Homo sapiens: one gene and its partner. The protein of the gene in region 1 interacts with the protein of each later gene in a pairwise test. Each region holds a gene or a part of one and is shown on either strand. Other genes may lie near its edges.

Region 1 (3,748 bases):
CAGTGAACCGAGACTGGGCCACTGGACTCCAGCCTGGGCAATAGAGCCAGATCCTGTTTCAACAACAACAACAAAAAAAAGAGTGACTTACTTTGTACATTAATTATTTACAAATAAAGAAGACTGCTGCTGAAAGCAGGTCTTTAGATGAGTTTTGTCCCAACCTTCACCTTTGTCTGTTCTCCATGGATGGACTAAAGTCCCCGAGGCCAGCATTGTACTCTTTGAGGTGGTTTCTTCACAGTGGGCTGGACCAAAGGTAAGGGGTTTCAGGGTCTCCTCCTTTAGAATAATTTCCATTCTTATTCCCAAACCTTTTCACCTCTACTCACAAACTTAGGAAATACCCAGTCTTTGACTACTGAAAGCCATTTTACAGAATGCAACCAAATGACACAAGTCCCTGTCAGGGTCTTATGGCTGAATGTCCTTTTCTCTAAGAGGAGTTATAATTGAGTTCATATCATTGAATTGTAGATCCTCCTACAAGTCACAAGAATAGCTATTAGCCCCTATTTTTAAAAATCTGGTTCTCTTCAGTCTCCTAATCCTCACGTGTTTCAATTCCCACCTTTCTATCACAGATATGAAAAAGCACCATTGCTGCTAAAAAAGCACTTTCTGGCACCGAAGGCTGCCAGTGGAGCTTTGCAGAAAGACTTTGTGGAAACTTATGTAGTGTTTAGCTCAAAATAAGCACCCATAAATATTTGTTGACTAAAACATTAAATAAGGAATCCAGAAACTGAACATTATCCTCTCTAAGTAATAAATTATTAAAGCTATGATGATCTCAATTGAATGCGAAGCACTCTATCTTTTTTCACAAAGTCGAAGTGGCTCTAAGACTCCTTTCGGAAGGCCCAAAATTTTGAGTGTTCTATGAAATGTAAGAAAATATCCATCACACAAAAGCCTCATCTGTCACTTCTCTTTTTGGGAAAACAGGTATTTGGGACCCTTGTTTGAGTGTCTTGACTCCGAGTACAACGAATTTCAATAAGAAGGCTTAGCAGGATTGTAGCTACTAAACACTATGCCTGTCTCTGGCTCCTATCAGAGACTGACCCCAACTATCCCAAGTGTCAAGAATGACATTCATGTTCACTGCAGGTGGGCAACCTGAGGCAGAAAGAGAGATGAAATCCCTTATCAAAAATACTCTGAGTTGGACAGTCACCGTGGCTCATGCCTGTAATCCCAGCACTTTGGGAGGCCAAGGCGGGTGGACTGCTTGAGTCCAGGAGTTTGAGACCAGCCTGGGCAGCATGGTGAAACCTCATCTCCACTAAAAGTACAGAAAATTAGCTGGGCATAGTGATGCATGCCTGTAGTCCCAGCTACTTAGGGGCCTGAGGCGGGAGGATCGCTTGAGCCAAGGAGGTTGAGGCTATAGTGAACCCTGATTTTGCCACTGCACTCTGGCCTGGGTGACAAAGTGAGACCCTGTCTCAAAATGAAAAAAAAAAAAGGTCAGGCACAGTGGCTCATGCCTATAATCCCAGCACTTTGGGAGGTTGAGGTGGGCAGATCACTTGAGGTTAGGAGTTTGAGACCAGCCTGGCCAACATGGTGAAATCACATCTCTACCAAAAAATTTTTTATAAGAATTAGCCAGGCATGGTGGTGCATGCCTGTAGTCCCAGCTACTCGGGAGGCTGAGGCAGGAAAGTCACTTGAATCCGGGAGGCAGAGGTTGCAATGAGCCAAGATCACGCCACTGCACTCCAGCCTGGGCAACAGAGCAAGACTCTGTCTCAAAAGTATATATATATAAAGAAAAAAAAGAAACAAAAAATACTCTGAGTCATGAGCACAGGCACCACATGACCACATATCTTTCTTCTGCCTTAAATGGATGTGGCAAGTGTGTTCTCTTGGACTTTTTCTCCATCAAAAGAACAAAAGGTCCCGATAACCTGGAGAGATACTTATACCTGATCTGCTGTGAGCAGAGGCTCCTCGTTGATACCGGAATCATTTTCACTCTTCTCATTGAACTCTTCCTCTTCTTTCTCATGGATCTGGAGAGGAGGTGGGGAGATGGAATTCTGGGTGACCATCAGCAGAAGTGGGATTGCCTCTAGTCTCGAGAATGGATGATACTGACTGGGAGGCCACTCCAGCCAGCTGCTGTCTAAACAGTGGAGCTGAAGAGGTGTCCAGAGTTTCATCCAATTCCAAACATATCTTTGCCCCATCACTAACTCCAGCATGCCAGAAATCCAGCATGCAGCACTGAATCCAACTTGGCAGGAAAAGACGACAGGGGAATGGCCAGCACCATTCTGACTCAAAGGGGACAGCACCGTTTTTTAACCCACAGACAGGTCATCCTGGGGTGAACAAGGCGCCTTCTCCAGGTAAGTGACACTGCAGCCAACTGCAGCAAAGGTGCCCTGATTTTGTTAAGGAGTTCCAACCTGGGGGGTTGTTTCCAGATTTCGTCTTACTAGGCATTTTAAGGAATAGGTTGTTCTAGTCCAAATAATGATGACTTTCAGAATTTGATGAAATGCCATCCTGTTACTGGAATCCAGGCATGATGTCATAGCTGATGGCAGATGTAAGAAATCTGCATGGGACATGCCACTGAATAACCTGACCACATGAACTAAACAACAACAAAACTACAAAAGAGAACCCCATTTATCTCATTTGCCCTGTGTCTCTATAATTCCATAATCCCAAGTAAGATCCTCAAAGTTCACAGCCATCAAAATTCTAGATGTTTAAATCTAACAAGCTATTCAAAGCATATCTGGCTTAACTGACCATATCCCAAACTGCCATAGTCTGGCATTTACATTCAAGTCCCACAGAAAAGTTAATCACTAAACACCTAACAAGCTGTATGTCTAGAAGTCTGATTTGAACGTCATACAAGGAGGAGGCAGGAGGTGTCTCTAGGAAATCTCTCTGCTGAGTCACCTCTCATCCAGGAATGAATCCTCCTTGCGCTCCAGTAGCTGGCACACCGATTGGCCCCTTCCCTGGGGCTTGTATTCTGCCTTTTCTAACAGGAAACAGCCCAGCTCCAATCCAAGCAATAATGTCAGAGGTAGTCTATCCTCAGAAACTTCTCCCGTCTTCTGTGAGCTTTGCCTTGGCAGACATCCCTAACAGAGCACATCACCTTTTATCTCCATTTGCTTAAAACCAGGACTATGTCATTAAAAAAGAAAAAAAAAATTAAGCAAATATATCTCAAATGCCATCCGCACTCAACCTAGATATGGGGTAGGACAGGGAGGTAATGGAATCATCTGAAGGGCCCGGGTACCAGATGGTGACATCTATTTCCGCTGTCAAACCCATATGCTCCTCTCTCTGCCAAGTCCACCACCTGCGATAGCCTCGTGGTTTCCACCGCTCCCCACTATGCAGAACAAAACTCCTGGAGCTACGCTTTGTTCACAACTACACTCATATGGAAGAACTTTCTTCAGGCCAGAAAATCCTGCAGTAGAAGTTAGCCCAAAATTAAGAGAACGAAGATACATTTTTTCCTCCAGACAAAAATTAGGGGAGAAAAAGGAAGAAATGTATCAATATGAACCCAGCCCAAGTTAGTGTGAGCCCAAGTTAGGCTCATCCTGGGAAACAGGGTTATTTTTCATAAGCATCTAACAGCAACTGTTAGTCTATAACCAGGATTTGGCAGGGGGTAGGGGGTGGTGGGCACTAAGTCTATATAAAAATGGCATGTTTACCTTTTCTGAAATGTGGCTGATTGTAGTGGGTTTAA
Region 2 (2,688 bases), on another chromosome or scaffold:
AGGCACAAGAATTGCTTGAGCCCAGGAAGCGGAGGTTGCAGTGAACTGAGATCATGCCACTGCACTTCAGCCTGGGCACAGAGTGAGACTCCGTCTCAAAAAAAAAAAAAGAAAAAAAAAAAGAAGTAGATGTCAACACAGAAGATCATGTGTTACAATCCTCTTATTTTAAAAATGAGGAGGCTAGCCAGGTCCTTTGGCACATGCCTGTACTCCCAGCTACTTGGGAGGCTGGGGTGGGAGGATCTCTTGAGGTCAGAAGTTATAGCTGTAGTGAGCTATGATTGCACCTGTGACTAGCCACTGCACTCCAGCCTAGGTAACATAGGGAGACCCTGTCTTTTAAAAAACAAACCAACAAATGAGGAAACCGAGTTGAAAGATCTGTGTTATATGTTTGAGTCAGAGAGGTAGGTAGTGGTGGAGCCTAAATTGGAACCTCAGACCTGGGCTTTTTAGTTACATAAAATCCAAACCAACTGTCAGCCTTCCTAGATCTCATTCCCTGCTTAATAAATACACAAACCCACTAATTCTTATATTGATAGTAGGCATAATCACTACTAGAGCTACATGGTGGTTAACTCTAGAGGTTAACAGAAATGGATAAATTAAGTGGGACATTTCCAGGAATGCTAAACTGCTTCTGGATTAAGAAATTGTATCTTGTGTTCCTTGTGGCTCGTTATGCCCTTGAATCCCTGTAACAGTAAAGGTTTCTTGTTCTGCACATGCTGACTTACCTGTCCTACAGTCTCTTACAGTACATCAATCAGAGGAAGAAGTTCAGAAGGCGCTGGGTGGGAGCTCTTGCCTCTGTAACTATCCCCAGTGAGTATTTTTGTATTATTGATAGGAAACTGAAGGACTATAGGGTTAAAGTAATCGCAACTCCTTTATACAATTAGGGTTACCAGATTTAGCAAATAAAAATATAAGATACCCAGTTAAATTTGAATTTTAGATAAACAACAAATGCTTTTTTAGTATTTAAGTATATGTTGTACAATATTTGGGACCTACTTACACCAAAAAAAAATCATTTTTCACCTGAAATTCAAATTTTCTGGGTATCCTTTATTTTACTGGCAACTGTACTCATGACATCTGGAACAGTGATGTGTGTGTGTAGAGTGAAGTATATAAAAAGCTGAGACATTACTGTAAAGGTAGTTGGTATTACTGATTTCTGTGGTGTGCATTGTCAGTGACTGCCACATTACATGCTGAATTGCTCGGACAGAAGGCTGTTTGGATTACTAATCAAGAGGCTATAGGTGGTTTGTGCTTATTTGTCTTTTCATTCTTACAGATTTAAAAAAAAATTATGGTGTTTCACACATAGTGATTAGTGCTCAGGAAATTATTGGTTGATTTCAAATGTCAAGGGTCTGTTATAACTGAAGAGAGACTTAAAGAATGATAGTATCCTGGACTTAGAGGATGTTGAAAGTTGGGCATATCCCATTTGGTCCAGGGTGCAGGAGAGCTGGATGAGGGACCAAATGGTTGTCTGTAGGAGGAGATGTGTCCAATGAATGAACTGGTACGTGCCTAGCAGTTTTTTAGAGGTTACCTAATAAAACAAGCTAGGTTTTGTATCACACAAAAAATTATTTATAGAAAATATTTTCTTGGGCTGGGTGAGGATGCTCACGTCTGTAATCCTAGCTTTTTGGGAGGCTGAGGTGGGAGGACTGGTTGAGCCCAGGAGTTTGGCACCACTCTGGGCAACATAGTGAGAAAAATTTTTCTCTACAGATAATTTAAAAGTTAGCCAAGTGTGGTGTTGCACACCTGTATGTAGTCTCAGCTACTGAGGACACTGAGGTGGGAGGATCGCTTGGGCCAACGAGTTTGAGGTTACAGTGAGCTATGACTGCACCACTGCACTCCAGCCTGAGCAAGGGAGAGAGAGACCTTGCCTATTATAATAAAAAAAGGAAGAAGAAAACATTTCTTTTCGGAGAGGAGTTAATTTTAGGGTGGGAGTAGAACAGATGTGAGAGCTGTTAAGTATTTCATTCCTTTTCTCTTTTCTAGTTCATTTTATCTATGGGCCATTGGATCCTGTAAATCCCTATCCAGAGTTTTTGGAGCTGTACAGGTGAGTCTCCCCGAGAGAAGTCTATGTTTTGTTAGTATCTCATCCTGACAGTGGTAAACAGAATTGCCTGTTGAGGGCTATTGGCTCTAGCCATTGTCTTTAACCTCGCTGGCTGTTCATCCAGGAAACAATAAAAAGATTGAGTTGAGGAATCTTATTCTAACATAATTGTAGTATCAAGACATTCAGTTATACGTTCTCTTGATTTATACATAGTCTGTTTTCACTGTCATGACTGCTACATATTCCTTGGTGTACAAAAAGCTCTCATGTGAGTCAAAGGTTGAAAGTGGATATACCTACAAAGTGTTTGTTTGTTTTAGTCTGATTGTAAAGCCAATTCATTGGTTTAGGCTGAGCAGATGGCAAGGAGAGATTGAGAAGAGCTCATTGTGGAAAAGTGCCTTCTCATTGGTTGCTATTCTCTCTAGGTACTTACTTGGAAGGTATCAGAATATGAAATCTTGATTATGTCACATAAGAATGTTCCATACCTTCCTGTGGCCTACTGGATACAAGCTAGTAGTAAACAGCTTGCATATAATTTTAAATAAAATACCCCCTCTCTCATCTCCTCCTGG

What was found.
Region 2: the proteins of FEZ1 (region 1) and MEST interact in a two-hybrid assay, tested with the Homo sapiens proteins (one large-scale study listed by BioGRID and IntAct).

Annotation. Positions count from the first base shown.
Region 1 is NC_000011.10:125,461,547-125,465,294, forward strand, and holds part of FEZ1 (fasciculation and elongation protein zeta-1), read right to left. Parts: intron 2,025-3,748; coding exon 1,938-2,024; intron 1-1,937. UniProt on the Homo sapiens protein: May be involved in axonal outgrowth as component of the network of molecules that regulate cellular morphology and axon guidance machinery.
Region 2 is NC_000007.14:130,501,890-130,504,577, forward strand, and holds part of MEST (mesoderm-specific transcript homolog protein), read left to right. Parts: intron 1-754; coding exon 755-831; intron 832-2,043; coding exon 2,044-2,107; intron 2,108-2,688.